Homo sapiens: one gene and its partners. The protein of the gene in region 1 interacts with the protein of each later gene in a pairwise test. Each region holds a gene or a part of one and is shown on either strand. Other genes may lie near its edges.

Region 1 (3,432 bases):
GAGGTGGGCAGATCACCTGAGGTCAGGAGTTTGAGACCAGCCTGGCCAACATGGTGAAACCCCATCTCTACTAAAAATGCAAAAATTAGCCAGGCGTGATGGCGCATGCCTGTAGTCCCAGGTACTTAGGAGGCTGAGGCAGGAGAATCACTTGAGCCCAGGAGGTGGAGATTGCAGTGAGCCGAGATCACACCACTGCACTCTACCTCAAAAAAAAAAAAAGAATTTCCCCCCACCAAAAGAATGCAGGAGATGCTGTGCAGCAAAATCTGTAGCTAATGTCTTCGGTTGGAGTTATAAGTCACCAGGGATCAGCAGTGGAGGTAGTTCAGGCTGCTGGGGGTTCAGGATTGTCTTCATATGAAAGGAATACTTAGGGTAACATTTCCATAATGTGAAAAGAACATATTAAAACACTAGTTGATTACAGCTTTCTGTATGTGTGTGTGTGTTTTACCTTTCCTATGGTGCTGAAGCTTTGTGTTTTTTAAAGGTGTTTGATCAGAGTGCGCTTTCAACTGAAGCTAAAGAAGAAATGTACAAGCTGTATCCTAATGCCCGAAGAGCTCATCTGAAAACAGGAGGCAATTTCCCATACCTGTGCAGAAGTGCAGAGGTCAATCTTTATGTACAGGTAAGGCCTAGCTTGAAACCCAGAGCACTCTGAGCCCAACATATGTTTGCAACATAAAGACTTCTTTTAATGGACTAGTTAGGGAATCAGTGAACTACAGAATTCCTTGTAGAAATGAGGCATTGACTTGATAAAAGTGGTTTACATTTATAACTTGTAGGAGAATTTGAACAGGTATATTAGAGATCCCCCAGTGACTCTCTGGCCACCATCCCTTTTCTAAGGACAGCAGGCCTGCATTCACACACTGAGGTTACTATTGGTATGATGTGACCTTGCCCTCTGGACACAGTGAATTCCATCAGAGCAAGACACCAGACCTAAATGGGGTCAATCTGAGTCCTGTGAAGTGACTTCTTGATCTAATTTTAATGCATTAAAAGAAAACCCTACCAGGCGTAGTGGCTCATGCCTGTAATCTCAGCACTTTGCGAGGCTGAGGCAGGCAGATCACAAGGTCAGGAGGTCAAGACCAGCCTGGCCAATATGGTGAAACCGTCTCTACTAAAAATACAAAAAAAATTAGCTGGACGTGGTGGTGCACACCTGTAGTCCCAGCTACTCGGGAGGCTGAGGCAGAAGAATCACTTGAATCCTGGAGGCAGAGGTTGCAGTGAGCCGAGGTCACGCCATTGCACTCCAGCCTGGGCAACAGAACAAGACTCCGTCTCAAAAAAAAAGAAAAGAAAAGAAAGCCCTAACAAACACCATCCCTTCATACTCTAACTAAATGGATAATAGAATAGCAGTGAGGGGTGAGTGCCCTGGCAGTTTGGCAAGATGAATCAAGAGCCTTAAAAAACCAGTTATATCCTGGCCACGCATGGTGGCTCACACCTGTAATCCCAAAAACCAGTCATATCCCTTGATCCTGTCATCCCCTTATAGAAGACAGGATCCTAAACAGGAATACTTGATGCCCAGAGATATTCATCATAGCAGCACTAGTCACAGTAGCAGAAGATTGGAAGGACCTAACTCACAGCAGCAGAAGGGAAGGGTAAACATCTCATGAGCATGCACCATCTAAGATGTCTCAGGAGACTCTGCAGGGACTCAGGGAGACTGCTCAGGGAGTGAGGAACAAAGATCCCAAATGTGGTTTCAAAAAATTGTTTGACTTTTCTCTATTTAGTATGTCTTAGTCTGTAAATTTTAGAAGTATAAAACATTTGTCCACTATGGTGATGTTTTCCTACCAAACTTTTTATAGAAGGCAGTATACATTTTACTCTGTAATGCAGCCATTTAAAACAATGATTCTGGCAGGGTGCAGTGGCTCACACCTGTAATCTGGCACTTTGGGAGGCCGAGGCAGATGGATCACTTGAGGCCAGGAGTTCAAAACCAGCCTGGCCAACATGGTGAAACCCTGTCTCTACTAAAAATACAAAAATTAGCTGGGCATGGTGGCGGGCACCTGTAATCCCAGCTACTCGGGAGGCTGAGGCAGGAGAATTGGGTGAACCCGGGAGGCGGAGGTTGGAGTGAACCAAGATAGTGCCACTGCACTCCAGCCTGGGCAACAAGAGTGACACTCCAGCTCAAAAAATAAATAAAATAATGATTCTGCATTTCAACAGATACATTTGCTGCAATTCCATGGAACCAAATACGCGGCCATTGACCCATCAATGGTCAGTGCCGAGGAGCTTGAGGTGCAGAAAGGCAGCCTTGGCATCAGCCAGGAGGAGCAGTAGTGTGTCTCTCGCTGTCAATGATGAGTTGACCCGGTGTGTTCTTGTATAGTCAGTGGCATCAGCACCCGTCAGCCAGCCTTTTCCTTCAGGTTCGTCAGGCTCACCGGTTCTCACTGTGTCTGGGAAGTAGGACTGATGGTCATCTTCATGACAGGCGGCATCTCCACTAAGCCTGTGTAACTGTTCCCTCTTTGGTTTTCTTAGCTTTTGAATTTGAAGAAGTACTTTTGAAGACTCCCATTTTAAGAACCGTGCAAATTTTGCTACCAAAAGTCTTCACCACTGTGTTCTTAAGTGAATGTTAATTTCTGAGGTTTGGGACTTTGTGGTGGTTTTTTTCTTCTTTTCTTTTCCATTCTTCTTTCTTTCTTTTTATGTTGTTTGCTGTAAATGCTGCACATCCAGATTGCATATCAGGACATTGGTTATTTTATGCTTTCTTGGATATAACCATGATCAGAGTGCCATGGCCACTACCCCACTGTTTGCTCTCCTGCAAATCAACTGCTTTTAATTTACACTTAAACAAATTGTTTTGAGTGTTAGCTACTGCCTTTCTAGATATTAGTCATTTGGAATAAAAATTCAATTTAACTGAGTCGCTTTTGTGATTATTGTTGCTGCCCAACTGGGCTACACAGGCCTAGGACTTTCTGAGAAGTAGGTCATGGTTGCCAATTCTGTGTGACTTTGGGTAAGTTACTTAATCTCCCTGAAGTACAGTTTGCACATCATAAAATAACCCTAAGCTATCATTTATTGATCTGCTACTGTGTGCCAGGTACTTTTCTCGTCTTCTTTCCCCTGAGTGAAAATGCTTAAACCCACATGAAGTAGAGAAAATGGCATAATGAATGATGTTCCCATCATCCAGCTTCAAAAATTATCAACTCTCAGACAGTCTTGTTCATCTTTTCTTTTTTTTTTTTTTGAGACAGAGTTTCGCTCTTGTTGCCCAGGCTGGAGTGCAATGACGTGATCTCGGCTCACCGCAACCTCCGCCTCCCGGGTTCAAGCAATTCTTCTGCCTCAGCCTCCCAAGTAGCTGAGATTACAGGTATGCACCACCACGCCCGGCTAATTTTGTATTTTTAGTAG
Region 2 (7,003 bases), on another chromosome or scaffold:
ATCATCTAGCTGCAGACAGACAGGATCTTCATCTCTCCCAAACCTGAGAACCAACACCTTCTCAGCAGTACTTTTTATCGCCTGGTCTACTTCCTTTTTGCTAGTCAGCTTGGGCAGTAGGAAGCTCATCTTGAAATAACCCAAATGTGAATCCTCACTGTCACTCCTGAAATAAAGGTGCAATGTTTAAAGACAGTTTAGATTAAGTGCGTGAGCCCTCATTAAAAAAAATTAATTCACAGAGTAGCTAATGTATTCACATGGTATGAAAGAAACATCATAGAAAGGTAACACTGTGGAGTTTCCCTCTCTTTGTCCCTGCTCCTTGGAACCAGTTTTCATTGTTCCCTCCCCCGGGCCAGATAACTGCTTTCATTAGTTTCTCATGTATCTTTCAGAGTTTTGTTATGCATTCACCAAAAAATACAAATATGCGTTCCGATATTTTTTTTCTCTCTCTCCCCACCCCCAAAAGATAGCCTATTGTATCAGTGTTCCAGCAGGAAAGCGATGACACTCTCAACTTTGGTAATTTGAAGGCAGTTTAATTAAGGCAGGTGTAGAAAAACAATACGGTAAAGTGTACTACTTTGGGGCTAGTAACAGCGGGATGCTGTACCCATCCCTAGGCCATGGGAGGAAGAAGCCACGGTAGGAAGCAGTTATAAGAATTGTGTGGCAGAAAGAGGTGAGTGGAGAGGACAGTGTATAGGAGGGCAGCCTGCTGTTAGGTGTTGCAGCCACTCTCCTCCCTCCCTCTGACCTTTGCTCATGCAACCACCGGCTGACTCCAACTGGAACCAGAGGGCAGGGGCCTGTTGAGGCAGGCAAACCTCCCTGTCCCAGAGCAGTCTAGAGGAGGATGAAGAATGGCTGTGGAGGGACCAATGGCAGATGTTCAGCACACACACTTTATCTACTCTTCAGCACTTTTCATTATTTCAAACCTAACCTATGAAGATTGCCCCATATCTCTATATAGAGAACATCCATATTCTCTGTCATGGCAGCATATTATTTCTTGCATGTGTTACACTTTTTAAACAGTCCTTTATTGTATACTTTATATTATTACAAGTCCTGGCTTAAAGATTCTTCGTGTGCACCTTACTAGGTGCACCTCATTACACGGCAAACAGATCAATTAAGAGTGTGTGTGAAAACTACAATACCATAAACAAATAATAAAATACTGAGGTACAAGGGACCTAATACAACCCCGTCATTTTACAAACTAGCTTGCTTACAGTTGCACTTTCTACTACAATGACAAGGACTAGAATACAGGCCACCAAATTTCTAGTCCAGGGGTCCTTCTACTACAATAATCTATTTTCATGATTGGTAGAAATTTCATTTTTGAGAAACTCTTTGACAAAGAAGCTTAGTTTTGTGGTCATCTATAAGAGACTCCATTGAGATGGTCGGTATTTTGAATTCAGTTCCAAATATGAAAAGGGAGGATTTCTTTTCCTATTTTTTTTGTCACAAGTCACATTTTAAGATACGAATTAGGCCAGGCTCACCCCTGTAATCCCAGCACTTTGGGAGGCCAAGGAGGGTGGATCACCTATGGCCAGGAATTCGAGACCAGCCTGGCCAACATGGTGAAACCCCGTCTCTACTAAAAATACAAAAAATTAGCCGGGCGTGGTGGCAGATGCCACCTGTAATCCAAGCTACTCAGGAGGCTGAGGCAGGAGAATTGCTTGAACCCTGGAGGCGGAGGTTGCAGTGAGCTAGGATCGCTCCACTGCACTCCAGCCTGGGCAAGGCAACAAGAGCGAAGCTCCGTCTCCAAAAAAAAAAAAAGGAATTATTTAACTAAAATTCACATAGGAAATAAGATTGTTCCAGCTATAGGTCATACTTTAAACAGGGACATTGATGGCCCAAAGGGACGTCATCAGATGTGAGCAGCAGAACAAATTACCAATGAAAGGGAAGGTCAAAGAGAAGACGGATCTGTCCCACTAGAATTCAAACAAACAGCAGTTCCTCCGTGTTACTGATCGAAAGGAGAAAGTAAGGGGAGAACAAAGTTGTTAGTGGTGAGGCTAGGGGTGCAACTGGACAAACGTTGGAAGCAGGAGAGGAAAACTGAGACCACATCTAAGAAAATGTCCATAGTAAATGATACCCACAGAGAATTCCCAAAAGAAGACGTACAAATGGACAGTAAATAAACTAAAAAGTTAAGCTTTACCAGTAAGCAAAGAAAAGCAAATTAAAACATATGTTTACAAAGTCACTGAATTGGCAAAAATTAAACAAGATAGTGGTAGGGGCAGGCACAGGGAGTTCCTGCTGGAATGCAGACACAAAACCTTTCTGGAAAGAAAACTGACATACTCTTTGACCAATAACTCCACTGCTTTCCTCTCTCCCTCTCTTTTTCTGAGGCGGGGTTTCGCTATGTTGCCCAGGCTGGTCTCAACTCCCCAGGCTCAAGCAATCCTCCCGCCTCAGCCTCCCGAGTAGCTGGAACCTCAGGCGCGCGCCACAACTGCAGAAACACCAAAAAAAGAAAAAAAGCTTGAACTCACTTTTGTACAGAATCTTACTACAATGTATTCCAGAAAAACAACTGGAAATCAGTGGTCATCTCTGCGTGTGAACGCATGGGTGATTTTTATTTACAGCCGGGCGCGCATCTCCATTTTCCAAAATATCCGATATACATATTTAAAGTCACCTGTGTTGCGCTGCTCCTGGCCCACAAGCGCTAAGGGACCCCAGCACTTACCTTACTCGTCCACGCCGCCTCACTCCCTTTCACTTTGTGGCTGTCAGCAACCACTTCTCGGAAGAGCCCGGGCGCGGACAGCTCCTTTCATCAGCCCCAAGCCGGACAGGACCCTAAGACCAAGTCACCCAGGGGCTGTTGCCTAGCAACCCTCGTGGCCCCGCTAGCGGGAAGGAAACCGAACAGAAAACGCACAAGCGCAGAAAAGAAACTCCTGGCCGTCGGTCGGCCCCCGCTCAACAGCCCAATAAACGGAAGAGCTTCTAGTCACCGCCCACCTTGCTCGGCTCTGACCGGAAGCTAGGCGTCACCTCCGCCCGTATTAAAGATGGTCGACCTTTTTCCCCTCCTTTTCCTGCCCCCAGACTAGAGGCGGGATGTAGTCTCTTAGGCTAAGAGTGATTGGTCACAAGGAGACTCGGAAGTGTCTGATCAGAGCCCCAGAGGAGGCCTTGAGAGCCTGTTGGCGTACCGTTCCACACTTGGATCCAGGAATCGGGCGTGTTCCAGGCTGCTCTCTATGGTAGCTTTGGGCGGATAGAGGGGGCGCGCAAAGTATTAAGGGACAATAATGGCCGCTTTCAAGGTGTGGATTTTGGCTCCTTGAGCCTGTCTGAGCGAGGGGTGGCAGCGCCGGCGCCCCAGAATCCGGGACAGAAGGGTCCCAAGAGTCGCGCTTGGTGAGGTGAGAGTCCCTTCTTCCTTCCTGGCCTGCCCTTCTGTAATCATGGCGGCTCTAGGCGGCGGATATTGGTCCCCTGCTCAGGTCCGGGCCCCAGTTTGGGGAGTTCCTCTGTCGTCCCTGTCACCCACCTTGCCTTACTCACCTCAGGGATGCTGCATCCGTCCTGGCCGCCTTGGCCTTCCTCCTTGCTCTGGTCAAATCCTGCTGCCTGGAGCGGCCTCGCTGAGATCCAGGGATGCTGCCTGGAGTGGCCTTGGTCCCTCTCCCAGGCCTCCGCTTTAACCCACCCCAGACTGTCACCGAGCCCGAGTAGGACTCCTTGTGTCTTCCTCTGCTCTCTCACAGTGTCATTTATACCAGGCAATCTGGTGGGCGATCTCTTCTACTAGAATGTCAGCTCCAGGTGGGCGGGGATTTTTGTCTTGTTCTCTGTTGCTATCGCCGAGAACAGCAATTGGCTCAGGGACACCCTCAGTGAATAATTGTTGAATGAATGAATCCAGGTTCTTTCTTCCCTGGCTTTCTCGTACGCCTTGTAGTTTCTTTGCCATTAATCCTTCTCAAGAATCTTGCTCTTTAGCTCCTTATTTGTTCGTCTCAGCAGCTAATGAAGTTCTCTCTGGCTGTCTCCTTGTCCTGTGTTGCTGGAATCTTCCCTTGCTGTCTCCAGAAATGTTTGGGTTCCTGTCCTCCTTTAATAAGTTTAAATTAATTCATTTTTTAATTTATCAAACGCTTATTTTGCTAGACATTGAGCTACAGCAGTCAACAACACATCCAGTGTTCTCTCAACTGCGTAGAATGGCAGTCCAGGGTACCTTTCCTAGTTTAGACAACTATTGAGTAGAGCCTGTATATCTTTACCTTCTTGTGTGGATTTCCTCACATGCGCACAGATGTCACCAATATGCAGCTTTCTTTTTTTCTGTTCTGCCTGATGGCATTTTCAAAATGTAACTCTTGTTTCTGCATTAATATTATGTGTCCAGTCTGTTTGGCAATACTCTGTAGAGCTGTGCATTTAATTAGAGTTTGGTAAACAATTCTGGATTCTGGTGGCATCTCCTTTGCTTTGCTAACTTGTTGGAATGAGAGGAATTATCCAAGCATCCAGAACTGATATATGTTGATGAGTGGCAGATGTGTAGTGAGAGGTAAAGAGGAGCTTGTTCCAACTTGAGTGCCAGAAGTCTTGTAGCCACTTAAATACTTCTCAGTAACACCTTTTCCTAACCTGGTGTTTCTCATAAATATTTTTGGTGAACATGGATTGTTATTAAACTGATTTTGGCTGCTGTGAGTAAATTGTTTTCTGTAAAACGCAGCTAGGCCAAGAAAAGCCACTAAAGTATGGAGAACATGGACGGTAGCCTTCTGCCCCATCTCTGTGCTGCTGTACCTGTTGTTTAAAGAGAGGAAGAGGTAGAACTCATGTAAAAAAATGGGTGAGGGACCAACAGTATATAGGAGGATAGCAAATAATACAATGTAGCAGTTACATTTATGTTAACTGTTATGGTTACATAAAGAGCTACTCTTTATGGTTTCACATACACTTTTTGTTTGATTCTCACAATAGCTTCATGGATTAGATAAGGTAAAAATTTTTTCCATTTAATAGATATGAAATTATGGCTAAACAAAGATTAAGTTATTTGCTTACCATCATACAGGTAGAAAGTGTCAAGAGCCTGGTTTCTAATTGAGGTTTCTGATTCAAATTTAGTGGTGTTTTCCCTACATCCCTGTTACAGCTGCTGACATCAGGCTCTAGAAAGTGTCCCTTAGTGAGACTTTTTATTGCCTCTTGGATCTTTGTGGGGGCTGGGGAGGAATGTATGGGGTGTGTGTGTGTGTGTGTGTGTGTGTGTATCTATTTTGGTGTTTATTGGGGGTTGGAATAGGAGAATCTTTGGAGATAGGCAGTGACTTGATGGAAAGGTCTTGGAGAGAGGGAGCAAAAGTAGTCCTGGTCTTAAGGGGAGATGGGGAAGGTTAATCACCTACATATAACCATAACTGCATTTATTGTGGGATATAGTAGAGCTGAGCCTTCTCTAGTACCAAATGGTTTGCCTTCCTTCCAGAGAAATCCCAGATCCTGTGATGGGGGACACCAGTGAGGATGCCTCGATCCATCGATTGGAAGGCACTGATCTGGACTGTCAGGTTGGTGGTCTTATTTGCAAGTCCAAAAGTGCGGCCAGCGAGCAGCATGTCTTCAAGGCTCCTGCTCCCCGCCCTTCATTACTCGGACTGGACTTGCTGGCTTCCCTGAAACGGAGAGAGCGAGAGGAGAAGGACGATGGGGAGGACAAGAAGAAGTCCAAAGTCTCCTCCTACAAGGACTGGGAAGAGAGCAAGGATGACCAGAAGGATGCTGAGGAAGAGGGCGGTGACCAGGCTGGCCAAAATATCCGGAAAGACAGGTAAAGGCCTTAGTATGGGTTAGCCCAGAGGGAAGCGAACGGAGGCTGGAAAATAACAGCTCATGTTTATCTCTCAGTTTTCCTGTTGGAGATTTAGAGCTTTATGATTTTATTATGATTCTGTAATACTGAAGGTAGGTAGGAATTTGTGGGGAAAAACAAAGGTGAATAAAGACGAGATGGTAGAGGTTAGAAATGCCTTGGGTTGTTGCCATATGTGAGCCTGCGTCCCAGGGAGAGAAAGTGGAAAAGGACAGATCACTTGTTTGGACAGCCAAAGGTTTTAGGGCAGAGTTTTTCTCCTATGGAGGGGCCTTTACCAGTTGCTCTCCCTGTTTCAGACATTATCGGTCTGCTCGGGTAGAGACTCCATCCCATCCGGGTGGTGTGAGCGAAGAGTTTTGGGAACGCAGTCGGCAGAGAGAGCGGGAGCGGCGGGAACATGGTGTCTATGCCTCGTCCAAAGAAGAAAAGGATTGGAAGAAGGAGAAATCGCGGGATCGAGACTATGACCGCAAGAGGGACAGAGGTAAACTGTCCAGCACAGTTCCTATTGTCCATTAGCATTCGAATAAATGTGTCAGCCTTTTTCTTGTTGCAGGAGTTTTTGCAACACCCATTTGTTAGGGAGTCCTATTTGCATGATGTCCGCCTGAGTGGTTTTGACCCTGCTGGGATTGGGAATACTAGTTTAAGAAAAGAGCTGTTGCCTGTAACATAGCTGCTCTCCTTGAGTGTGTGGTCTTCGTTTTATTATGAAAATTGATGATAAAGGAGATAATGGGTAAATATGTATAAGAGACCAGCATTTCTAATAGTATTGGTGATAGAGAAAGGACAGTGCTATGGAACAAAGCTAGACAAAAAAATCCAATGCTGTCCTTGCTCAGTATTAAGTTTTATAGCTGATAGAATTGTAACTATTAAAAAAAATGATTCACTGTAAACTCGCACTAGTATTTTTTGAATTCTTGCTGGAAAATAACTGTTACTGTGGGTTTGAAATTTTCTAGGCAGTAACTATTTTTCCCCCTTGGGAGAATGGGGATAGGTGAGTTTCAGGAGTCCACGGATCACATTCGAGCAGTGCAGGTTGCACCTGTGAGTGAGTGGGCAGCCTGTCCTTTCTCTAGGGTGAAGATG
Region 3 (7,039 bases), on another chromosome or scaffold:
GGATTACAGGTAGGGTACCTTATAGACATCTAAGGACCACACAGGGTACTTCATTAATCAGATTCATAAATCCAATCATAAATATTATATTGGCTAAGTTATAAAGAAAGTGAGACATGAAGATTCCAGCTTTTTTTATTTTTTCCCCTTTTACACAAAACAAAGTAGAAGAAATAATACAGGATTAAAACTGCAAAAGTAGTTAATCAGTAGAATATGTATGCACACAAAAAATCCAGATAGGAAGACAGGCTTATTTACAATGAAAGTAAGGTAAAATTAACGTAGTTTTCTTATGAAATAATAAAAAAAAATCAAACATATGCTACAATGGGCACCACTGTTCACAGCAATATTAAAGAGGAGAAAACAACACTTATTTAATAGGGACAGATATACCACAAGGTACAACATCAGTGCAATAAATTCACAAAACTATATTACAGCTAGTTAATCAGTTTAAGAATTGTTCCCGTCAGTCACATTTTTTGGCCCTCAGAAGTTCATTCCTAAAGATTTCAACTACTCTAAATTTCTAGCTACCAAGAAGTTAAGAATGATTATAAGAAGCTTTCCAAGGAGTTATGAAATCTTTGTAGACCAGAGGCCAACTATCATCACCTCAAGTCTGCTCTCACCAACAGCCCTTGTATTTTTCAGGGAGAAATCTCTAGGAAAAAAGTCAGACACCAGTGTAGTCACTATCTCCCATGTCAAACCTAGGGGACTAAAATGGTCAGTATTACCATAAAATGATAATTTTGAGGTTTACCTTAAAAGGCTTATTCTGGTCTCAAAAATTAGATAAGATTATCTTCTACTGAAATGAATATTGACTAAACATAGAAGACTGCTGTCCTTTTGCCAGTCTTAGAGTGAAAGTCATAGACATGAGTCTTAACCTACTGTATACTATAGCTAATGTCAGCTGAAAATCTGAAATTAAAAGCATGCTAGAAATCCTAAATGCAATCTTTTGGAAGTCTGCTATTAAAAAGCCTTTAAGGATTTACTAACTTCGAGTCTAAGTGCAAGGGGACGAAAGCTTAAGCCTGTCAGACATTCCTTTTCTTGGACAAAAAGATCAAAGTTTCCTACAAATTGCTAAGCTTTGCACAAGGGAGAAGCCTACATGTACTAGTGCATGGAATCAGTTTCATCTTATTTCATGGGGACTCTTCTCCCACTGGAAAGAAACAGAATGAGGAATGAATCTTAATTGGTCTCTTCATCAGAAGTGGTAAACTTGGTCTCTATATTCACGAAGTCAGACAGTTTTTTAAGCAGACTGTGGAAGCAGACAGAACCAGCTTCCTGTAGCCACAGACCACTACATGGTATCTAAGCTAAAGCAAAGATGAACAATTATCCAGATTCACTTGAACTGTACTAAAGGGCAAGGTTCACCACTACAAAAAGGAAGTTGTCTAAAAGCAAGAATTCAATTAACGCTGGGTAAGAAAAGTCAAAACACTAATGAGTTGTCCATGAAGCCAACTGCTAAGAACGCGCTCAACTATACGCGACATGAAGACACTATGCACGAAGCCTTACTTGGCGAGTCTGAATTTCTATTAACTAAGGGCAGAGTGAGGGAGAACAAAGAGCTACTTCCGTAACATTTTAGTATCCAGATAGTACAGCAGAAACGGTTCCCGGGGCAATGGGTGCTGCATTAATCACACTGATTAAAGCAGATGAATCATTCGTTTTTCTTTTCTTTTTGTTTGAGAAGTTTGTTTATCTCCCTCTTGGCCATTCCAATGTACTTCAAAATGATTCCATGTTGGTTTAGTCCAGGAAGCAATAGTAAGGAAGTCACTTAAAATAAAAAAAAACCCAACATTAAGGAGGCAGCAATTAACCTGCTAAAGGTTATTACTTTTTTTTTTTTTTTTTGAGACAAAGTTTCACTTTTGTTGCCCAGGCTGGAGTGCAATGGCGCAATCTTGGCTCACCGCAACCTCCGCCTCCCAGGTTCAAGCGATTCTCCTGCCTCAGCTACCCAAGTAGCTGGGATTACAGGCATGCGCCACTACGCCTGACTAATTTTGTATTTTTAGTAGAGATGGGGTTTCTCCATGTTAGTCAGGCTGGTCTCGAACTCCCAATCTCAGGTGATCCGCCTGCTTCAGCCTCCCAGAGTGCTGGGATTACGGGCGTGAGCCACCACACCCAGCGACAAGTCTCACTCTTTTTGCCCAGGCTGGAGTGCAATGGCACAATCTCGGTTCACTGCAACCTCCACCTCCCAGGTTCAAGCGATTCTCCTGCCTCACCCTACCAAGTAGAGTAGCTGGGATTACAGGTGCCTGCCGCCACGCCTGGCTAATTTTTGTATTTTTAGTACACATGTGATTTCGCAATGTTGGCCAGGCGGTCTCCAACTCCTGACCTCAGGTGATCAGAGGTTATTACGTGTGTATGGCGGTGGTGGGTGGGGGGGGTGGTGAGTGCAGTGGTGTGATCTCAGCTCACTGTAACCTCCACCTCCTGGGTTCAGGTGATTCTCATGCCTCAGCCTCCTAGGTAGCTGGGACTACAGGTGTGTACCACCACATCCAACTAATTTTTGTATTTTTAGTAGAGACAGGGTTTCGCCATGTTGGCTAGGCTGGTCTCAAACTCCCGGCCTCAAGTGATCCACCTGCCTCAGCCTCCCAAAGTGCTGGGATTACAGGCTGAGCCACCGTGACCAGCCAGTTATTACATTTTAAAGAAGGCAGGTTCCTACATTATTAAACTCAGTAATGGGAGGAAGCAACATGAAATCAATTACTTCCACTGGGATGTATCCCCAGAAACTTCTGCTCTCATCCCCTCTTCCACCTCAGAAAATAATCATTGCTTATTTTTACCTCTTGCACATTACTTTCTACCTTGGTTATTGCATTGTTTTCACTTTCTATGAGACCATAATAATCTTTCCATATTCCCACAGTTCCTTTTCGGTGTCTAAAACTTAGGAAGTATTCAGCTGTTTACTGACGAAGTTACAGTTAAATTTCACTGGCCAGGATGTGCCTGTAGTTTTTCCTCAAAGACTTACCTATCAGGTAGGTGAGAAGCAGGTTGTGGACTTGTTGTCCCACCCAAGCAACCGCAGCAAGGGAAACGATCATGGTCATGAAGTACTAGCAATGAAAACAAGAATTTAATATCAAAACTTCATGTGACACCATAAATATATGTAATTTTTATTTGTCAATTAAAGAAGAATGTGTTTCAAAGTTCGGGAAATAATTTAGCTTTTATTATCACTTTTCTTTAAAAATTCTTAGATTTAAAAACCTATTCCATTGGATCTACTTTATAGAATTTGGATACATTTCTTCCTAGAATTACTGCAATTCTGTATGTAAATATTTTATGATATAAATTATACGATCTTTTCAGTTAATAACTTCACGGAACAGCCTCACGACGTGAAGCTTACAGATAAGAGAACAGATGAACAGATGCTTTCCTTTTTTTTTTTTTTTTTTGAGACAGAGTCTCATTCTGTCACAAAGGCTGGAGTGCAGTGGTGCAAACAGCTCACTGCGCAAACACAGCTCACTGCAGCCTCGACCTCCAGGGCTCAAGTGATCCTCAGCCTTCCATGTAGCTGGGATTATAGGCATTAGCCACTGTGCCCGGCCTAAACAGATGCTTTCTAAGTATATGTCTTTTACTATTATTTCAGTAAGAAAAATGAAACAGAAGAATTTTGTTTTATTAGAATAAAAAATTAAATGCAAAAATGTAATTTTTAACTTTAAAATGATTCAGTCTAATTAATACAGGTAAACATTTATGAATGTACTTAGGAATTAACCAATGAATAATTTTCAAATTATAGCTATTAAGACAAAAAGGCGAATTGACTCAAATCTTAAAATTTTACTGTACTTAAGTCAAAGCAAAAAAAGTACCATCTTAGGTTTTTCTTCCTTTAGTGTGAAGAGGCGTTTCCACCAACCCACAGCTCTGCGTCGAGTTTTTACTAGATTGCTGCAAATTTCATGGAATCTTTGCTGTTGTTCAGTGGTCCTAGAAAAGAAATTTGCCTTTTGCTATAAACAAATCGTTACAGTAGACAAAAACATGACACCCTGTTCAATTTAAGAGCTATCTTCTAAAGAAAATAAAAATAAAAACAATGTTTCACCATTATCTTATGTAGGTGAAAAAATCCTTCCACCATTAAGACACCTTTTATAGCACAGGAGTAAGTATTTACATAAACTATGTGTGTGAGAGAGAGAGTGTGTGTGTGTGTGCGTGTGATAAAGAAAGGATCATCTCTGGCTCTGAAGCCACATTTATTTAATGGTAGTAAAAGACTCATGACTTCTATGGGCCATAAAGAAATCAGTATAAATTTGATTTTGCTATTCCTAAATATTCTTTAGATCCTAGTAAATGCTGCACTATACCTACCAGAATCCCACCGAACAACTGTATTTGAACACTCCTTAGTAAGATACTAACTACTGGCATTTAACACATAACACCCCCAACTGGGCTTCATACATCTGATGACAAGGCAGCAATAAACAGCTCAAATCTAAATTCTTCTTTGTAAATTTATCCCTAGGGAGGGAAAATATAATCAACAAACAACACAGCAGTAAAAATCCAACAAGAGACCCTCCAAGAAAACCTTTTATATTTATAATGTTTTTCTTGGTTCTGATTTTTTTAATTGCCTTTGCACTGTCTTCGCTACACAGCTATAATGGCTGCTATTATTGCCCTGTGCTGAGGGATGTGTTGCCTTCTCTTCTCTAGCCCTCATCTCTGTAAAACTGCAGTGATAGATAAAGTACAAGGATTTCTGCTGAGCCCTGGAACTTCTTTTCAACAATGAGATGTTATTTCTTGCCCATGGTCAAGGCTAGATTGTGGCTATGCAAAAGAGTATTCTTTCTTCCTTGTAAGATCAAAAAATAAACAAAATCTGCTCTATCAATAACTGAGTCACATCACGAAACTATCAGTGGTTATTTCTGCAAACTTTCCTCTAGGAGTTATAAATTAGCAGACTGGAATGTTATCTGGCTAATAAGGCCAAGGTCAGTGATTTATTTCCTTTGCTAACTCTGTTATACTGCACATTCAGAAACTTGCCCAAAAGAGCCAACAACATTGATTCATTACTGCAAGTGAAAAACAATTTGGACAGTTCCTAACACTAATCCATTCTGCTGTTGGGGGAAACACCTTTAAATATTGTCAATTATATCATAATTTAAGCAAACTTTGAATTTGTTCTTAAAGATCCATAAGGTACACATTTAAAATTCTTATATTTACAGAATTATTTTGCAATTTGCTATCCTCTGAGATACAAACAACCAAAGGCACAAGTAGAATACTAACCAAATAAAATAAACAGCCAAGGATAGAATAGCAGCTGAGAAGAAAATATCTATTCCAACTTCTATTTTGGCTGATTATTTGAATCAAAACTCAACATGCTAGAGAAAGTTAAAATACTTTTAATATGATCCTTATCCACTTAACTATATCTGAGGAGTTCATAAGCAACCTCATGGTATAAATAGGCCGGGCACGGTGGCTCACGCCTGTAATCTCAGCACTTTGGGAGGCCGAGGCGGGCGGATCACAAGGTCAGGAGATCGAGACCATCCTGGCTAACATGGTGAAACCCCGTCTCTACTAAAAATAAAAAAAAAAAAAATTAGCCAGGTGTGGTGGTGGGCACCTGTAGTCCCAGCTACTCGGGAGGCTGAGGCAAGAGAATGGCATGAACCTGGGAGGTGGAGCATGCAGTGAGCCAAGAGCGTACTGCACTCCAGCCTGGGCAACAGAGCGAGCCTCCATCTCAAAAAAAAAAAAAAAAAAGAGAATGGTATAAATAAAATCAGCAACCCATGTGTATACAGCTTGAACCTCTTCGGAAACACTTGGTATTCACTTTGTTAACTGCCATTCCACTGCCTCAGTGTCTCAGTATCTCAGCCTTAACACAAGATCAATCTTAAAAGTCAAAATATTTCACAGTACTTTACAGGGCCTGCCACAGTAGGCATTTAATAAATAATTGCTAAATGAATGTGAATGAAAATCTGCCAGTTTCCTTTTCTGTATTCATTCAAAAATAATTTGTGAAGTTATTATACTATCCTAAATATCAATGGAAATGTAAAAATGTATATGTGCATTTACCATAAAAGAACTATGGAGTACAGAAAATTCATAGTTTATATTCAAATCAGTTACAATATTCTTCACATAAAAGCAATAAATCTAATGCTTAGGTGTCTGATGGTTAGACAATTATCTCTGCTTATTTACAGCATACTAATCACAGCCACCAAGTTCAGTAACTACACAAAAATGAGACTGCCAAATCATTATGCTACCTACCATTTATTGGAGCCAAAAATTCTAGGCGCTAGAATGGGAACAAGGTAGTCAGCCAAGCACAAAAACATAACAAAACAGGAAACGCCGGACAGAACAGATGGATCTAGATAGTAGATAATCCTGTTAAAAAAATTAATAAAGGTTAGAAAAACATAGTCATTATTATTCCTAACTAAACATGTCTAACTTAACTATTCACTTAACTATTCACCGCCTCTCAGAGATATTTGCCATTTTTCTTCTAATTTTCTCACAAGTGGCTTTCCAGAGGCTTTGTGACATGCTGATATCATAGCTGCAGTGGTTAAGTATATATCAATGGACAAAAGCTCTTTGGAGTTCTCAGCACTTTTTTAAGAGTTTAGGGAGGTGGGGGACTAGGGGAGGGATAGCATTAGGAGAAATACCTAATGTAGATGAAGGGTTGATGGGTGCAGCAAACCACCATGGCACATGTATATATACCTATGTAACAAACCTGTACATTCTACACATGTTTCCCAGAACTTAAAGTATAATAACAAAAAAAGAGTTTAAGTGTCTGGAGGACAAAAAGTTTGCGAGTCACTGATTTACTCAAGTGCTTTAGGTTACCAAGTTTACAGAAGTACTACAAATTCTGGAAACTAGAAGTGCTTATGAGAAACATTCTTTATGGGTTCTT

What was found. Proteins that work in one complex are often made in the same cells at the same time.
Region 2: the proteins of SPG21 (region 1) and TXNL4B interact in binary tests that used the Homo sapiens proteins (3 or more experiments, as listed by UniProt).
Region 3: the proteins of SPG21 (region 1) and ARL6IP1 interact in binary tests that used the Homo sapiens proteins (3 or more experiments, as listed by UniProt).

The regions. Positions count from the first base shown.
Region 1 is NC_000015.10:64,962,522-64,965,953, reverse strand, and holds the end of SPG21 (maspardin), read left to right. Parts: intron 1-493; coding exon 494-634; intron 635-2,217; coding exon 2,218-2,334; 3' UTR 2,335-2,932; downstream 2,933-3,432. UniProt on the Homo sapiens protein: May play a role as a negative regulatory factor in CD4-dependent T-cell activation.
Region 2 is NC_000016.10:72,090,621-72,097,623, forward strand, and holds the start of TXNL4B (thioredoxin-like protein 4B), read right to left. Parts: upstream 3,001-7,003; 5' UTR 2,747-3,000; intron 167-2,746; 5' UTR 130-166; coding exon 1-129. Other genes in the region: DHX38 (pre-mRNA-splicing factor ATP-dependent RNA helicase PRP16), read left to right, coding at 5,538-5,860, 6,202-6,389. UniProt on the Homo sapiens protein: Essential role in pre-mRNA splicing. Required in cell cycle progression for S/G(2) transition.
Region 3 is NC_000016.10:18,791,550-18,798,588, forward strand, and holds the end of ARL6IP1 (ADP-ribosylation factor-like protein 6-interacting protein 1), read right to left. Parts: intron 6,496-7,039; coding exon 6,376-6,495; intron 4,033-6,375; coding exon 3,915-4,032; intron 3,135-3,914; coding exon 3,050-3,134; intron 1,822-3,049; coding exon 1,703-1,821; 3' UTR 120-1,702; downstream 1-119. UniProt on the Homo sapiens protein: Positively regulates SLC1A1/EAAC1-mediated glutamate transport by increasing its affinity for glutamate in a PKC activity-dependent manner.